Homo sapiens: one gene and its partner. The protein of the gene in region 2 interacts with the protein of the main gene of each other region in a pairwise test. Each region holds a gene or a part of one and is shown on either strand. Other genes may lie near its edges.

What was found. Proteins that work in one complex are often made in the same cells at the same time.
Region 1: the proteins of TSHZ2 (region 2) and SPTA1 interact in binary tests that used the Homo sapiens proteins (3 or more experiments, as listed by UniProt).

The regions. Positions count from the first base shown.
Region 1 is NC_000001.11:158,640,880-158,648,715, reverse strand, and holds part of SPTA1 (spectrin alpha chain, erythrocytic 1), read left to right. Parts: intron 1-62; coding exon 63-207; intron 208-995; coding exon 996-1,177; intron 1,178-3,121; coding exon 3,122-3,221; intron 3,222-3,330; coding exon 3,331-3,528; intron 3,529-4,319; coding exon 4,320-4,463; intron 4,464-5,220; coding exon of another isoform or gene 5,221-5,290; coding exon 5,291-5,394; intron 5,395-5,739; coding exon 5,740-5,902; intron 5,903-6,173; coding exon 6,174-6,305; intron 6,306-7,836.
Region 2 is NC_000020.11:52,966,549-52,976,101, forward strand, and holds the start of TSHZ2 (teashirt homolog 2), read left to right. Parts: upstream 1-5,809; 5' UTR 5,810-6,745; coding exon 6,746-6,785; intron 6,786-9,553. UniProt on the Homo sapiens protein: Probable transcriptional regulator involved in developmental processes. May act as a transcriptional repressor.

The DNA.
Region 1 (7,836 bases), on a different chromosome or scaffold from region 2:
CCCACTAGCCTGCCTCTGGTACATATCCTTACTTTTGAACTCTCTACTCTCTTGTATACCAGAGAAGCAGATGACACGAAGGAGCAGATTGAGAAGAAATGCCAGGCCCTCAGTGCTGCAGACCCTGGCTCAGATCTGTTCAGTGTTCAGGCTCTTCAGCGACGGCATGAGGGCTTTGAAAGGGACCTCGTACCCCTGGGAGATAAGGTGAGACAAGTCCTTCAAAGCTTTTCCAACACTTTCCAGTCTATATTTAGCCGTATACCAATGCCCTCTTCTTTGGTTCTCTTTTTCAGTCTTTTATTCTTATATTTCTCTCTGTTCTGTGCCATATTTATTCTTGTACACTGTCCCTAAGGCAAGACCATGAAAAGGATATGCCCCATGACCATTAACATGGGGAAAAAACTTGTTAAACTCCTGCTGTCTGAGTGAGCACCCTATATCCCCTTGCCTCTTTGGTGGGTTACAAGTGACCAGATCTTGTGGCAGCTAGGTGGAGGCCAGTAGCCCAGAAGAAATAGCAAATGTCCATACCCAGGATGATCAGGCCAATATCTGAGTATGGTGCATGTTTTTCTTAGCAAGGAATTGAATGAGTTGTTTAACTCTGTTTCAACCCAAAAGTGTACTCTGGAGCTTGTCAGATATACTCAGAGGCTTGGCATTATCATGCAGAGCAAAAAGAAGCTCCTCACATGAAGAATCAAGACCCTTGGGTTTCCTAATTGAGGTTGCCACTAACCAGCAGAGTCACTTAACCACTCTTCCCCACAACTCTCTTATTTTTAAAAAGAAGTATGGTAATGCCAATTGTAACTACCTTAGGGAGTTATGTGGACTAAAAGGTTGATATTATTTTGTAAAGTATGATGACATACTTGTACATCACTGATATCTATTTGAGGAGCTGAATACTGGGACTCAGGATTCTCCTTTTGCTAAGATTCAGGTGTGTCTCTAGGCTGATTATCAGAGCTATTGTACCTCCCCAGGTGACCATACTGGGGGAGACAGCAGAGCGGCTCAGTGAGTCCCATCCAGATGCCACTGAGGACCTGCAGAGACAGAAAATGGAGCTGAATGAGGCCTGGGAAGACCTGCAGGGGCGTACAAAGGATCGTAAGGAGAGCCTAAATGAGGCCCAGAAATTCTACCTGTTCCTCAGCAAGGCCAGGTAGAGTGGGGTGGGTAACTTCCGTGTCTGGCCTCTAAGTAGACTGTCTGGGAGCAGTCTGGGTACAGATGCTGTTCACTGCTGGTTTTGGAGGGCATCACTACGTTTAAGTCTCACCTCTTGCAAGGCATAAAAAATTTCAGGTTTGAAACTAGAAGCAATAAAATACAAAGTTTGAAAGAATATGAAGCCATGTAGGCCAATTAAGTAAGCTTCTATAATGTAGAAGCTTTTTTGTTCTACTGAAGAGACAGTAGTATTCAGTCTTCTACTGTATTCAGTATTCTGTTGAATACAAATAACTATGGTAGAACATAATGAGGCCGAAAACACACATTGTAACAAACAGCAGTGGGAATTCAGAGTTGGGTAGAATAGATGATGCACTGTAGATAAAGTAACATTTTATTACACCTTATCAGTCAAACTTTTAACAGAAGAGAAAACAATTCATGTAGACTGAACTGTGCAAAAAAAGACATAATCATGAGAAAAGAATAAGCATAAGAACATGTTTGGGGAGGGGGTGGTAAGGAGAAGTAGTAAGAGATAAACTTAAAAATAATATTGGGACCAAATTCCAGAGAACTGTGAATATCTTACTAAAGTCTAGACATTATCACAATCCAAAATTCACCTCTCAAACATATACTTTGTGGAACAGTTCCCACGTTTGGCTCTATCGCATCAGTCAGCTGAGAGGAGCATTAGAGTAGAGGGTCCAGGAAGTTGTAGCTCTCAATGCAATGCTTTTCAAGAAAAAAGGAGGCAAATTTTGGCAAATGACTGTAGTTCCTCTTGGAAATCCCCTCCCCAGTTCAGCACTGGAAAGCTATAGTTTTTGACACAGTTTAAATAAATAGCACCCACACCCATTCCAATGGTGCTTCCTTCCCTTTATGAAGCTGTACTCCTCAGTATTTCAGAGTAGTGTTCCCACCCCTGAGCAACATTAACATCTTATTTTACTCCATATGATACTTTTGCTTTCAGTTTTGTTTTTTAATTGCTATTAGTGCCTATGCTCTGTTTTTTGTTTGTTTTTTGTTTTGTTTTGTTTTGTTTTTATCCATTCTTAACCTAAAGTATGAGTTCCTAGAAGGCACAGATATGCCTTTTTCACAATGTTTGGTACTTAGTAAGCACCCAATAAAACTTAGTTGCTTGAATAAATAAATTTACAAAAGAAGAGACCTCTCTTTCCTAGAGCTAAGGGTTCCTGTTGAGCAAACAAGAGTAATGACATTCTTTATGAGATGCTTAATTTATACACCATATATGCTTTAAAGTTAATGCATAGTTAAAATTTGCCTTTTAAGAAGATAGACCTTAGTTTTGCTCGTCTAACTTCCTGACTACTAAAAGGGTAGGGAAATAGACCTTGATTTAATCAACAGTGTGGAGGCCTGTGTGTGTATGTGTATGTTGGCCAAAATATGTGCTAGATTCACTTGAGAATAAAAGTAAGAGGAAAGACATGATTTCTTTGAGACTCTGTAATAAGATGTATCTTCAAACCCTAGAAACCACTTAAAAGGAACAGTAACCAACAGAAGTAATGAAATATATAACAGTCCAGGATTCCAGAGGTCTAGGTTTTATTGAAGATGTCTGCTTTTAGTTATACCACATAGGCAGATTAATTACCTTTTCTAAGGTGACTTCTTTATCTCCATAATGAAAACAAAAAATTCCCGGAATCTCTGCAGGATTACTGCAAGAATTGAAAAAGATAATAAAAGTGAAGAGGCTTTCAAATACAAGGGATTGTTATCATTAGGTGATATAATAAAAACAGCAAACGTAAGATCTGTAAAGCATATAAAGCCAGATAAAAAATGTTATTCTGGAAATGTTTTCTAGAGAATGGAAAACTGTAGGACAAACAGCACTGTAGCAAGTTGCAAGGTTTTCTTGTCAATTCCAATGTGTCTGTTTATCTAGGGATCTGCAGAACTGGATCAGTAGCATTGGTGGCATGGTATCATCACAGGAGCTGGCCGAAGACTTAACTGGCATAGAGATCTTGCTGGAGAGACATCAGGTAAAACTACAAAAGTCACAGCCACTGATCACTTGACCTGAAACCTCTACTAATTTTAAAATTTCCAATGGAGTTGGCCTCACTGATTTCTTCCCCCTTTTTCCCACAGGAGCACCGTGCTGACATGGAGGCAGAGGCTCCCACCTTCCAGGCCTTAGAGGACTTCAGTGCAGAACTTATCGACAGTGGGCACCATGCTAGCCCTGAAATTGAAAAAAAGCTTCAAGCTGTCAAGCTAGAGAGAGATGATTTGGAGAAGGCTTGGGAAAAACGCAAGAAGATCCTAGACCAGTGCCTGGAGTTGCAGGTACAGCAAATTTCCCAATTGTTAAGCAGGTTCAGTAGTCTGTTTCTCCTATGCAATTTCATATGGTCATTACAGGCTCCGTTCACTAGACTTTCCACGTTATAAACACAAAGGGAGCTCATCTCTTAATTACCTAGCATTGTACTATGCTTTCTATACCGATCATTGTCATATTCTCTGCTCTTTCTTGTTAGAAGAGCCAAACAAGATGGTGATCAGTCCTGAGCATGAGGTGGGTTGACTATCATTTGTTGATTGACTGAGGAATTGATTGGCTGATTTTTGTTGAGACTCTACTCTGTGGAGGCTCGGAGTGCCACAAAGATTAGTAAGATAGTTTCCCATTTCTTAAATAGTGAAATTAGACATATAGATAAATTTTACTAGTACAGTGAGATGATTATTAATAAACCAAAATGTACGAGTGCTTTGAGGCTAAAAAACAAGAAGTGATTAAAGCTTTTGGGGGAAGTAAGTGGTTGTGTCACAGGCTACCCTGAAGGATAACGTTTCACAAAGTCTTAAGGAAATGACCAGCCAGTATTAACAAGGTTTAAGAAATAGGAAATAGCACCCCAGGAATTGGAGGTAGCATATACAGAAACATAAAGTGTATGTTTGGAAAAGAGGAAAAGTTCCAGTACAGCTAAGATTTGTCACATGAGTGTTTCTTGGAAGATGGTAAGTACTCCTTGCAAAACCCTTTGTGTCATGATCCTGAAAGAGGTGTAACATCATTTCCTCCACACCACATGGACTATACCATACCCCTCTCATTTGATTCCTCATAGATGTTCCAGGGGAACTGTGATCAAGTTGAGAGCTGGATGGTGGCACGTGAGAATTCCCTGAGGTCAGATGACAAAAGTTCCTTAGACAGTCTGGAGGCTTTGATGAAGAAACGGGACGATTTGGACAAAGCAATCACTGCCCAGGTAATAATGACTAGTAAAGGAATTAAAATAATAATCCGTAGTAATAATAACAGAAATCCTACACATTTGTCTGGTTTTATAATTTATAAACATTTTGATTTACTTTTTTTTTTTTTGAGATGGAGTCTCATTCTGTCACCCAGGCTGGAGTGCAGTGGTGTGATCTCGGCTGACTGCAACCTCTGCCTCCCGGGTTCAAGTGATTCTCCTACCTCAGCCTCCTGAGTAGCTGGGATTACAGACACCCACCACCATGCCCAGCTAATTTTTGTACTTTTAGCAGAAACAGGATTTCACCATGTTAGCCAGGCTGGTCTCGAACTCCTGACCTCAAGTGATCTACCTACCTCGGCCTCCCAAAGTGCTGAGATTATAGGAGTGAGCCACCGTGCCCAGCCCTGATTCTTGTTTGCTTCTTACAGAAAAACTGAGGCAGGCAGGGCAGCTTGACACTTGACATTGTTTCACCCAAGTCACAGGCAGCAAGCAGACTCTCTTACTTTAAATCCAGCATTCTAAACTCTGACTTTTAGGATTGATTAAATAGTCATTTCATCATCTCACTCAATAAAGGATTCACCCTCTACAATGGTCATGAGAAGTGTCTGTTCTTTAGGGAACTCTGTACCACACAAGTAGCCCATTATTAGATGTTTCTCCTCCTATTAAGTTGAAACCCACCTCCCTGTAAGGCATATATTATTTGACCCTGAGTATATCTTCTGAATCCACAAAGGATACCTTCATTCTTTTCTAGGAGGGAGTCTGGGATTGCACCAAGAGCCTAATCTCCAAGCATCTGGGCTCTTTCCTTTTCCTTTATTTAGGAAGGGAAGATCACTGACCTAGAACATTTTGCTGAGAGCCTCATTGCTGATGAACACTATGCCAAAGAAGAGATTGCTACGCGGCTCCAACGTGTACTAGACAGGTCAGGCCTGAGTGATTGTTTTATGTGCCAAAGGAAGATATAGCAAACTGACCTTTTTGCTAGCATTGAGATGGGGGAATACTCTGGCTTCCTGTCATTTCTAGGTGACTAAAACTATCTTGACACCTATGCAGACTTTCTGACTTAGATTTATAGAATGAAAGACATGAAAGATGAAAGATACCTTAGAAATTAACTGGCTTTAGCACTGCATTTTATAATGAAAATAATAAGACTATGTGAGAAGAAAAGAGGCATGTTGGCAAATGGGAAGATTTATGGATATGGCATCAGAGCATGGGAAGGGTGGAGGAGGGCATAGAGTGATTTGGCTCCGTCCTCTAGGTGGAAGGCTCTCAAAGCACAACTGATTGATGAGCGGACAAAGCTTGGAGACTATGCCAACCTAAAACAATTCTACCGAGACCTTGAGGAGCTGGAAGAATGGATCAGTGAGATGCTGCCCACAGCCTGTGATGAATCCTACAAAGACGCCACTAACATTCAGGCAAGTTCAAAATAGGAATCTTGGAAAATTTCACCATTCCGAGCTTGTTGGTTGGATAGTCATCACCCTTGATACTTTAACACTTTCTGACTGTTGAGGCTACCATGCCTGCTCTCAGAGACTTCAGAGTCTGATGTGGAGCAGGTTCTTCAGAAGTCACCGTCACCTCAGTTATGATAGAAATATTAGCCCTTCCTTTTAAATACAATTTACCTTATCTTGTCACCATAAATAAAAAGATAATATAATTTCTGTTTCATTTTCCCTTCAGAGGAAATACCTGAAACACCAGACCTTTGCACATGAAGTCGATGGCCGATCTGAGCAGGTGCATGGCGTCATCAACCTGGGGAACTCCCTGATTGAGTGTAGCGCTTGTGATGGCAATGAAGAGGCCATGAAGGTAAAGCTCAGGATGAGTTTTGGGCTACAAAGTCACATGAAGAGGAATCATTTACTCTTTCTTTTTTTTTAATTTATTGTATTTTTTTTAATTTTATTATTATTATACTTTAAGTTTTAGGGTACATGTGCACAATGTGCAGGTTTGTTACATATGTATACATGTGCCATGTTGGTGTGCTGCACCCATTAACTTGTCATTTAGCATTAGGTATATCTCCTAATGCTATCCCTCCCTCCTCCCCCCACCCCACAACAGTCCCTGGTGTGTGATGTTCCCATTCCTGTGTCCATGTGTTCTCATTGTTCAGTTCCCACCTATGAGTGAAAACATGCGGTGTTTGGTTTTTTGTCCTTGTGATACTTTGCTGAGAATGATGGTTTCCAGTTTCATCCATGTCCCTACAAAGGACATGAACTCATCATTTTTATGGCTGTATAGAATTCCATGGTGTATATGTGCCACATTTTCTTAATCCAGTCTACCATTGTGGGACATTTGGGTTGGTTCCAAATCTTTGCTATTGTGAATAGTGCCGCAATAAACATATGTGTGCATGTGTCTTTATAGCAGCATGATTTATAATCCTTTGGGTATATACCCAGAAATGGGAAGGCTGGGTCAAATGGTGTTTCTAGTTCTGGATCCCTGAGGAATTGCCACACTGTCTTCCCCAATGGTTGAACCAGTTTACAGTCCCACCAGCAGTGTAAAAGTGTTCCTATTTCTCCACATCCTCTCCAGCACCTGTTGTTTCCTGACTTTTTAATGATCACCATTCTAACTGGTGTGAGATGGTATCTCATTGTGGTTTTGATTTGCATTTCTCTGATGACCAGTGATGATGAGCATTTTTTCATGTGTCTTTTGGCTGCATAAATGTCTTCTTTTGAGAAGTGTCTATTCATATCCTTCACCTACTTGTTGATGGGGTTGTTTGTTTTTTTCTTGTAAATGTGTTGGAGTTCATTGTAGATTCTGGATATTAGCCCTTTGTCAGATGAGTGGATTGCAAACATTTTCTCCCATTCTGTAGGTTGCCTCTTCACTCTGATGGTAGTTTCTTTTGCTGTGCAGAAGCTCTTTAGTTTAATTAGATCCCATTTGTCAATTTTGGCTTTTGTTGCCATTGCTTTTGGTGTTTTAGACATGAAGTCCTTGCCCATGCCTATGTCCTGAATGGTATTGCCTAGGTTTTCTTCTAGGGTTTTTATGGTTTTAGGTCTAACATTTAAGTCTTTAATCCATCTTGAATTAATTTTTGTATAAGGTTTAAGGAAAGGATCCAGTTTCAGCTTTCTACATATGTCTAGCCAGTTTTCCCAGCACCATTTATTAAATAGGGAATCCTTTCCCCATTGCTTGTTTTTCTCAGGTTTGTCAAAGATCAGATGGTTGTAGATAAGCAGCATTATTTCTGAGGGCTCTGTTCTGTTCCGTTGGTCTATATCTCTGTTTTGGTACCAGTACCATGCTGTTTTGGTTACTGTAGCCTTGTAGTATAGTTTGAAGTCAGGTAGCGTGATGCCTC
Region 2 (9,553 bases):
TCCCCACCCCAACAGGCCATGGTGTGTGTTGTTCCTCTCCTTGTGTCCATGTGTTCACATTGTTCAGTTCCCACTTATGAGTCTTATGAGTGAGAACACATAGTGTTTGGTTTTCTGTTCCTGTGTTAGTTTGCTGAGAATTATGGCTCCCAGCTTAATCCATGTCCTGGAAAAGGACATGATCTCATTCTTTTTTATGGCTGCATAGTATTCCATGGTGTATATGTGCCACATTTTCTTTATCCAGTCTATCATTGATGGGCATTTGGGTTAATTCCAAGTCTTTGCTATTGTAAATATTGCTGCAATAAACCTACATGTGCATGTGTCTTTATTTTAGAATGATTTATAATCCTTTGGGAATATACCCAGTAATGGGATTGCTGGGTCAAATGGTATTTCTGATTCTAGATCCTTCAGGAACCACCACACTATCTTCCACAATGGTTGAACTAATTTACACTCCCACCAACAGTGTAAAAGCTTTCTTATTTCTTCACAGCCTTGCCAGCATCTATTGTTTCTTGACTTTTTAATAATCACCATTCTGGCATGTGATGTTATCTCATTGTGGTTTTGATTTGCATTTCTCTAATGATCAGTGATGATGAGGCTTTTTTCATATGCTTGAAAACAAAACATTTTTAAAAGTCTAGCTAGATACTCTTGTCCCTCCCAAGCTTCTGAGCCTAAGATCCGTGGTATCTTTGTTGAAAAATAGAAGTTAGCAAGCATTAGGTATAAAAGAGACACGAGCACAAAATGGTTATTTTATCAGATTGAAAGAGAATTGAAAGGGAATAACTTTCTTACTATGTGATTCAATATTATTTAACATCTTGTCTACAGCACTGGGTACATAGTGTTATACATCCCGCTGGTGTAAGCCAAAACCATTTTCGTGGATAACTAAGCTAACTATTAGTAACGGTATGAAAAAATACAAATTAATAAAAGAACATTTCAGAAATGTAGATCCAACAATGTGTTAATAGCCAGCCAGAAAGTAGGTACTGCAGAATTGTTACAAGTCCCCCACATTATATAACCAGCTATTGAGAACAAGGAGAGAGCGGATGTAAAATTCTGAGAAGGATATTGGATAGAACCTCAGGGAAATTCTGTCATCCAAAGTCATCTTCTCCTGCCCATTTCCTTCCTGATTGTCTCCAAGGCTGGACCCAGCTTCCAAATTCCCTCTTTTTTAGTTCCCAGTCTTTGGGATGTTATTATAACATCCAAAAGCTTTTTGAAGGTGATGATCCTACCTTATGCATTCCAAAATCTGCTGTGCTTGGGGCAAGGCCTGGTAGACCTAACAGGCGCAGTAGATGTCTGTGAAATAACTGGCTGAATGTAACACAAACACCACACCAGCAGGCATGGGGCTTGCACAGAGCATGGCGGCTTCATGGTGAGGTTGCTGCAGCTTCACTCCTCTTCTGTTCAGGCCTCCTGATCCTATAAACAAGTATCCCCTAATCCCACAACGGTGGTTCCTTGGCTGCAAGGCTGTGAGGTTTTATTCAATAGGCTATGGTCCCTTGCACAGTGCTCTGTAAAAATGTATTGGGTAATTAGAATTAATACCTTTTTTGTTGACATTGCCAACTATGAAATCGGGCTTTTTCTGCCTCAGTTGCCTAAGGACTAGGCTGGGACTGGGTGGAGTTGGTCATGGGTGGAGGCTTCTCGGGTGATTTAGGGCAAGTGAGTTAACAACTTGTACCACACATGTGAGATGGAGAAGTGCGTGAGGATGTTAAAAATGATTAAACAGCACTTTGCAAACAATCACAACAACACTTTGTGGCTGACAAGTAGGATAGGGAAAGTTGAGTGTCATACAGCCCAAAGAACTGTTAAGAAAAATATTCATGGAACTAGTCAGAACTGGTAGTTCCCCATAAGCAGGTGGGTGGGTTGTAGTGGGAAGTGTCCCAGATCAGACTGGGCAGGCCTTGCTGGGGTGGTGGGGTGGGGGTGATCATGGTGGGAGGAGGAGTATTGAGGAGTGGGCACAGGTGAAACCCCATCGCGACGGCCACCATTACAACATCACCCCTTGAACCCTTAAGTTACATTAATATCTAAGCCTGACTTGGCTTTATAGTTAACAACATTGAGTATGTCTGATTACAAAAGAACAAACAATTTGGGGGCAGATGTTCTCTAACTGGTGTGAGCAGAAGTTTCACTTGTAGGGATGGATGGGTTACATGTTCAAAATACAGATCTCTAAGCCTTCATCCGGAATTTTCTGATTCAGAAGATCTAGGGTAGTGATGCTAAGCCAAGGACGATTTTGCCTACCAGGGGACATTGGGCAGTATCTGGAGACAGTTTGCATTGTCACAACGGAAGCCTGGGATGTTCCTAAACATCCTACATTGAACAGGACAGCCCCTCCTAACAAAGAATTATCAGACCTTCAATGTCAATAGGGCCTGGGTTAGAAAATCTTGCTCTAGGGCAAGGACCAGGTACGTGCATCTTAACAAGGGCCTCAGGAGATTTTAATGCGGAAGCAGAAGCCTTACACGGTGTCTTTTTGATACAAGGGCTTCAGTATCAGAGTTCCCTTTTTGCCTACCCGTTTGTTATATGTAAGACTCAGCTTTGACTTACCTCTTCCCTTGAAGCCCCGCCTGGTAACCATCCTTCCTTTCGCCAAGTTCAGGGTAATCACTCCTCCTAAGAACACCTTCACCACATACTTATAACCAACTGATCTTTGGCAAAGCATATAAAAACATAAGTTGGGAAAAGGTCTATTCCAGTGTTCTCCAGCCTTTTTTTCACCAGGGACTGGTTTCATGGAAGACAATTTTTCCATGGACCAGGGCAGGGTGGATGGTTTTGGGATAAAACTGTTTGACCTCAGATCATTAGGCATTAGATTCTCATAAGGAGTGTGCAACCTAGATCCCTTGCATTCACAGTTTACAATAGAGTTAGAGCTCCCATGAGAGTCTAATGCCCCTGCTGAAGTGACAGAGCTCAAATGGTAATGCTTGCTTACCCCTACCTGCTCACCTCCTTCTGTGCCACCTAGTTCCTTACAGGCCATGGACAGGTGCTAGTCCATGGTTCAGGGGTTCGGGACCCCTGCCCTATTCAATAAATGGTGCTGGGAAAATTGGATAGCCACATGTAGAAGAATGAAACTATCCCTGTCTCTGACCATATATAAAAATTAACTCAAGATGGATTAAAGACTTTAAACATAAGACCTGACACCATAAATATTCTAGAAGAAAACCTAAGAAAAACTCTTCTGGACATTGGCTTAGGCAAAGAATTTCTGACTAAGCCCTCAAAAGCAAATGCAACAAAAATAAATAAATAAATGGAGCCTAATTAAACTAAAAAAATTCTACCCAGTAAAAGAAACAATCATCAGAGCAAACAGACAACCTACAGAATGGGTGAAAATATTTGCAAACTATGCATCTGACAAAGGACTAATATCCAGAATCTACAAGGAACTCAAACAAATCAGCAAGAAAAAAAAAAAAATAATCTCATTAAAAAGTGGACAAATGACGTGAATAGACATTTCTCAAAAGGAGACAGACAAATGGCCAACAAACATAATGAAAAAATGCTGAACATCAATAATCACAGGGTAAATGCAAATTAAAACTGCAGTGAGATAGCACCTTACCCTAGCCAGAATGGCCATTATTAAAAAGTCAAAAAACAACAGATATTGGTGTGGATGTGGGGAAAAGGGAACTTTTATACCCACTGCTGGTGTGAATGTAAATTAGTACAATCTCTATGGAGAACAGTATGGAGATTTCTCAAGGAATTAAAAGTAGATCTACCATTTGATCCAGCAACCCCACTACTGGGTATCTACCCAAAGGAAAAAAAGTCATTATGTCAAAAAGACACCTGCAGGCGTATATTCATTGCAGCACAATTGCAAAGATATGAAATCAACATAAGTGCCCATCAACTGATTATTGTATAAAGAAAATGTGGTATATATATCTATATATGTGTATTTGTGTATATATATGTGTGTTTGTGTGTATATACACACATATATATACACCGTGGAATACTACTCAGCCATAGTAAAGAACAAAATAATGTCTTTCACAGCAACTTGGATAGAGCTGGAGGCCGTTATTCTAGGTGAAGTAACTCAGGATCAAAAACCAAATACCACACGTTCTTGGTTATAAGTGGGAGCTAATGCATGGGTATGCAAAGGCATATGGAAAGATATCATGGACATTGGCAACTCAGAAGCGAGGAGTATGGGAAGGGGGTGAGGACTGAAAAACTACCTATTGGGTACGATGTACACTACTCGGGTGACGGGTGCACTGAAATCCCAGACTTCACCACTATGCAATTCATCCATGTAACCGAAAACCACTTTTACCCCTAAAGCTATTGAAATAAAAAAAATAATAAAGCAAAAAAAAACACCTCTAGTCCCAGCCTGCATCAAATGCCCTCAGTTGCTTTGCCCTCTCACTGGAAGGAGCACTCCTTGAGGGCATGGTCTAGGTTCACCTTGTTCACAGACTTGCCCCCAACACCTCAAAAGGTGCCTGGCCGATAGCAGAACTCAATAATCACATGTTTGTTTCAATCTCTCTGTGCTCAAATGCCATATCCTACATTGAATCTAGAGCCACCCACCCCCTTTTAGACACTATTACAGCACTCAGCTTAACGTCTTCATGGAGCGAATCACTCAAAGTATCCTGTTTATTTGCTTGCTTACTTTTCATTCATTCAACAAATATTTTACTGGGCACTTATTATATGTCTTGTGCTTTGCCAGCACTTGGGGATATAAGAGAACAAAGAGGCAAAAATCCTTCCTTCCATTGGAGCTTACATTCAAGAGGGGAACTTGTACAATCAACAGAATAGAAAACTGTCTATAACCTGTGTGACACTCACTGATCAGCTCACTGGGGAATAACAAAATGGAGAAATGGGGCAGGGAGTGTGTGTGTGTGTGTGTGTGTGTATTTTAGGTGAGGTAGACCTTTGGGAAAAGGGGACATTTAAGCAAAGATTGGATAGCTGGGGGGCACTTGTCTGCACTCCCCCATTAGAATATAAATACCAACATGGCCACCACCTTCCCTTTCTCTGTGGCCTCTGTGTCTCCAGAATAGGCACATAGTAGATGCTCAATAAACATTCTTCAAAGGAAACAAAAAGAGGAGTATATGATTAGACCTTAAAGTAGACAGAAGGGAGATTTTTGTTTTTGTGACCACCCATTGATTAGCGAGAAAGTGGGAGGGACAGGGGCACTAAATTGAAGGGGTCGTGGGGAGCACATTTTGGTGGGGGCAGGTTAAGACTTACAGGATGGAGATCCTCACTGGATAAGGTCCCCTCCCCCTTCCCAGCCCCGAGCAAACCTAAGTTCTCCCTCTCCTAAGATTGTGCATGGTCCCTGCTGGTCAGCCAACCTGGCCCCCCTGAATCTCCCTCCACAGCCTCCCAGCTTCAGAGTTCAGCCATCATCACACTGCCTCCTTTTCTCCCGCACCCCTTCCCTCCTCACCTCCTTTCCTCCCGCCCCCGCCCCTTCCGCCTCCCGGAGGGGTGTCCCCGCGCCCGGTGGGCACGCCCTCGCCCCGGCGGAGAGGGCGCACAGAGGGGCCTGGGCCGGCGCGCCGGGGCCCCCGCCCCCAGCCCCTCTCCCCTGCGGGACGCTGTCCCTTTAATAGGCTCCCGCTGCCTGGCGCTCTGCGGCTGGGGAGTAAATTTCTCCCTGTCATCAGGTCGCGGGGAGAGGAGGAGGAGGAGGAGTTTGTTAATGTTCAGTTTGTTCAGCGGGATCGATGTTTGCTGGCATCGCCTCGCCCTGTCTTGTGTGTGTGTGCGAGGGTGTGTGTGTGTGTTTGTGTGTGTGTGCATATGTGGGGGGTGTGAGTGTGTGTGTGCGAGGAAGCGGGGGTGCGTGCGCGTGTGAGTGCGTGTGTGAGTGTCTGTGTGTGTGTCTGTGTGTGTGTGTGAGTGAGTGAATTCCAGATTTTCTGTCTTTCCAAAACCCGCTCCTGTCCTCTCGCATATCACTCACAGACGGGGATCTGACAGCAGCCACAAACCTACAGTGAGTGATCGCTCTCCCCCCGGCACGAATCCGCCATAGAGATCGGCGAGGAGGAGGAGGAGGAGGAGGAAGAAAAGAAGGAGGAGGTGGAGGAGGAGGTGGAGGAGGAGGAGGAGGAGGGAAAGAGGAGAAGGAAGAAGAAGAAAAAGAAGAAACCCACTACCTTCCCAGGATTGCCTTTTTTTTTTCCTTATCTTTACGCGCGAGTGTGCCTGTGGCGCGTGTGCGCCCCTCGTCCCTTCCATCCGAACCCGGGCTTGGATGTTTAATAAAGAAATCAAGTGTCTCAACAGTCACCAAAAAAAAAAAAAACCGCAAAAACAAAACCAAAAAAATTCCAAAAGCAAAAACAAAAAAGAGAGAGGAAAAAAAATTCAAAATAAACAAACAAACAAACAAGGCAGAACCAACCTCTACTTCAAAGCAGCCGGCACAAGCCACCCGTGTCTGCCACCCAGAGAGGGGGGTCTCTGGCCCGTGGTGGAGGAGTTGCAGGGGGGATCGTCAGGGGGACAGAGGCCGAGTGACGTCCTAGGAGCCACCGGGCAAGAGGCGGAGGAGACCCAGAGAGGCCAGAGAGACAGCGGGCCCCAGCGCGCGGCTCGGGGCTGGGGCGCCAGAAGTGGGACTGGAGCGAAGTAGAGGATGCCGAGGAGAAAACAGCAGGCACCCAAGCGGGCGGCAGGTAAGAGAAACGGCTCCGCTTCGGGGCTGCCCTGTGCGCCGAGCTCCTCGCCCGCCCTCCTTGCCCCTGGGTGCCCGGGGGCACCACCCACTTAAGCTTTCGGGGGAGTTTGCGCCGGGTGCCCTTCTAATAACCCCGTCCTCTCTCGCCTTCTCTGGTCTCCCAAATCCTCCCCTTCCAAGCTCCGGTTGGGTTGGGGTGAGCTATCCCACCAAGCCTTTCCTCCTTAAACTTTCTTTCCTCCACCCTCTACCCCACCCCTAACTTTCTTCCAGTCTGTTTCTTGCCTCTCGGGCCAAAGTCGGATTGAGGATTTGGGGTGCGGAGTAGGGAGACAGCCCCTCCACCCCTGCATCCCTCTGCGTGGTCAGTGCCAGTGGCTTTTGGCCTCCAGGGATAGCGTCTCCTCTCACTGGGGCTTGGGGCGCTGAAGTGTGAGGCATACCTAACACTCGGGCTGCAGGCAGGCTTTGGGGCCAGCAATAGGAGTTTAGCGTTGATCACCAAGGTGGACAAAATGCCCCCAGGAAATGGATGACTCTTTGCATATATTTTCTAAAAGGATCCATATTTGGAAATGTAATTAACAATTTCCCTATTCTTTAAAAAAACCAAAAAGGGTTGTAGGGGGGAAATTCCCCATAGAAATTTAAACAGCTCTGGATTTTCTTTGCCTAGAGAGTTGCAAACTTTGTGAAATGATTCGTACTGTAAAAACTATCCCATCTGAATCCTTACTGCCCCCTAAAAAAGATAAGAACAGGTTAATGGATCAGTACAATAGACCTTCTAAAGTTTTTTTTTCTTTTGGGTTGCTTAATTGCTTTTTTAATAGTATGCTGGGGTTTTGTTTCTCGGAAATGTAATATGAAAGTTCATTTTTCTTCTGCCAGACCCACCCACTGAAAAATCAGCTTTCCACTTGATTGCTAGTTTTGATTTGACATTTGATTGATCACCTGTCATCTCGCTGCCTTTGATCTATTCATTCTTGATATATATCAATAAATCACTCACCATGGTAACTCAGAGTGCCAGTGACGCAAACCTTGCCCTCTATATTCAGAGCCAGACATGCACAATTATTATCTTGTTTGGCTTTTAATGTGGGCGTTTTTATTTCTTTGTGTCCTTTAGTTGAATCAGGGCTTTCGCAAAAAGCTTAAGTTTAGTTGTTTTTTCCTCTCTCTCTGTCTTTACCCTCTTGATTTAGGCAACATTAGGTAAGACTGGTCTTCTGCAGACCCACCTCCACATTTCATTCTGTTCCAACTCTAGCAAAACATAGGGAGAAGTTTGGTGGAACACTTTCATAAACTTTGCAAAGTCACCCTTAGAACAAATCCAAAGTTAGTTAGGAATCTGAGGAGAGTGGGCATCCCTTGTCTGAATGTGTTGAACCACCAAGCTCATCCTCCTTCCTCGCCTGAGTGTTTCAAAATATCCACAATTATCATTCCTTCTGAGCACAGAATTGCTTCCCTATTTGTAAGTTGGTTCAAGTGGCATGCAGAAATATTGATAAAGCGTGGATTCATATATTTTCTGATCGTTTCCCTAAAAGCAAAATAATTAAAATATTTTTAGTGAGGTACGTATTTGGAACTTGCCTCATCAGTGAGGTTTTCTTTTTTCAACTCTAGTTACTTCTTTGGAAAACAATGTCTCTTTCCTACCGTTGTCTCTTTCTGCATTTAACTCACTGATTTCCTAAAACTTAGGCTGCTTTGCAATCTGACAGCGTGTGGATGTGTTCAATGGCCTTTGAGACCCAGGAACAGTGAGCCTGCTGCATCTAGTTCTGGCAACATAAGTTTAAGTGTAGCTACATTATTAGAGATAACGTCCTTATTGTTGTCCCGAAAGAGAACCCTGGGCTACGGTCCAGCAAGAAGTGATACTGCCCTGAAAATTACTCTTTTTTTTTTTCTGGTTGTTCCGGTAAAGACTATCAACAACTAGGCAGTAATTTAAATTACCAGAATGACTGGACATGTCTCCTTTAGTAAGCTCATTACAAAAAGTGCATTGCTCAGAATTGCTCGACTTTGATTATAATTATCCTACGATCGATAAGGATCCAGGTGTACGTAACATAACACTGTATCACATTATTTAAATCAGGTCCTTTTCATTAAGCTGTGTCTGTTGGTGCTGGCTAGTTTATTGGTGTGTGTGGGTGTGTGGGGGTGTGTGTGTGTGTGTGTTAGAAACTTGTAACTATAGTTTCAGTTTTCTGGCCTATTATATTCCTACTGTCTTTGTATGTTTGTTTTGTATGATTCTTATTATTTTCACCAGAAGCGGAAACCCTTTTTAAGCTGAAAAAGGATGATTCATTTCGTACACAGTGAGGGCCCTCTTACCTTATTTATTTGCTCACATATTAATAGAGGAGACAGTTTTTCATGCAGTGTTTCTTCTGTTCATCTAAGGTCATCAATGCCCTACTCTATTTCAGCTGAAGTGGTTATTCACAAGTAAAGTTAGCCACTTTGGGGTTCTGTAGTCAGTTAACATCCAGGGAAGGGGAGAAGGTGGGTTCTAAGATTATGGCCATACTAACTTTTATCACTGCTTAAAATTAAACACAATGCACAACTGTAAGTAATTACACCCAAGGACTGATGTTGAAAGCTTGATTTCTAGCTTGATTAATGAATAATGGGAGATAGAAAAAGCCTGTGAGTGGATCCGAGCTGAGGCTCTCCCGGAGCGCTCTTTTTCCCAAGAACTGTTCCAGGCAATTTGATTCCTTTGTATTATTA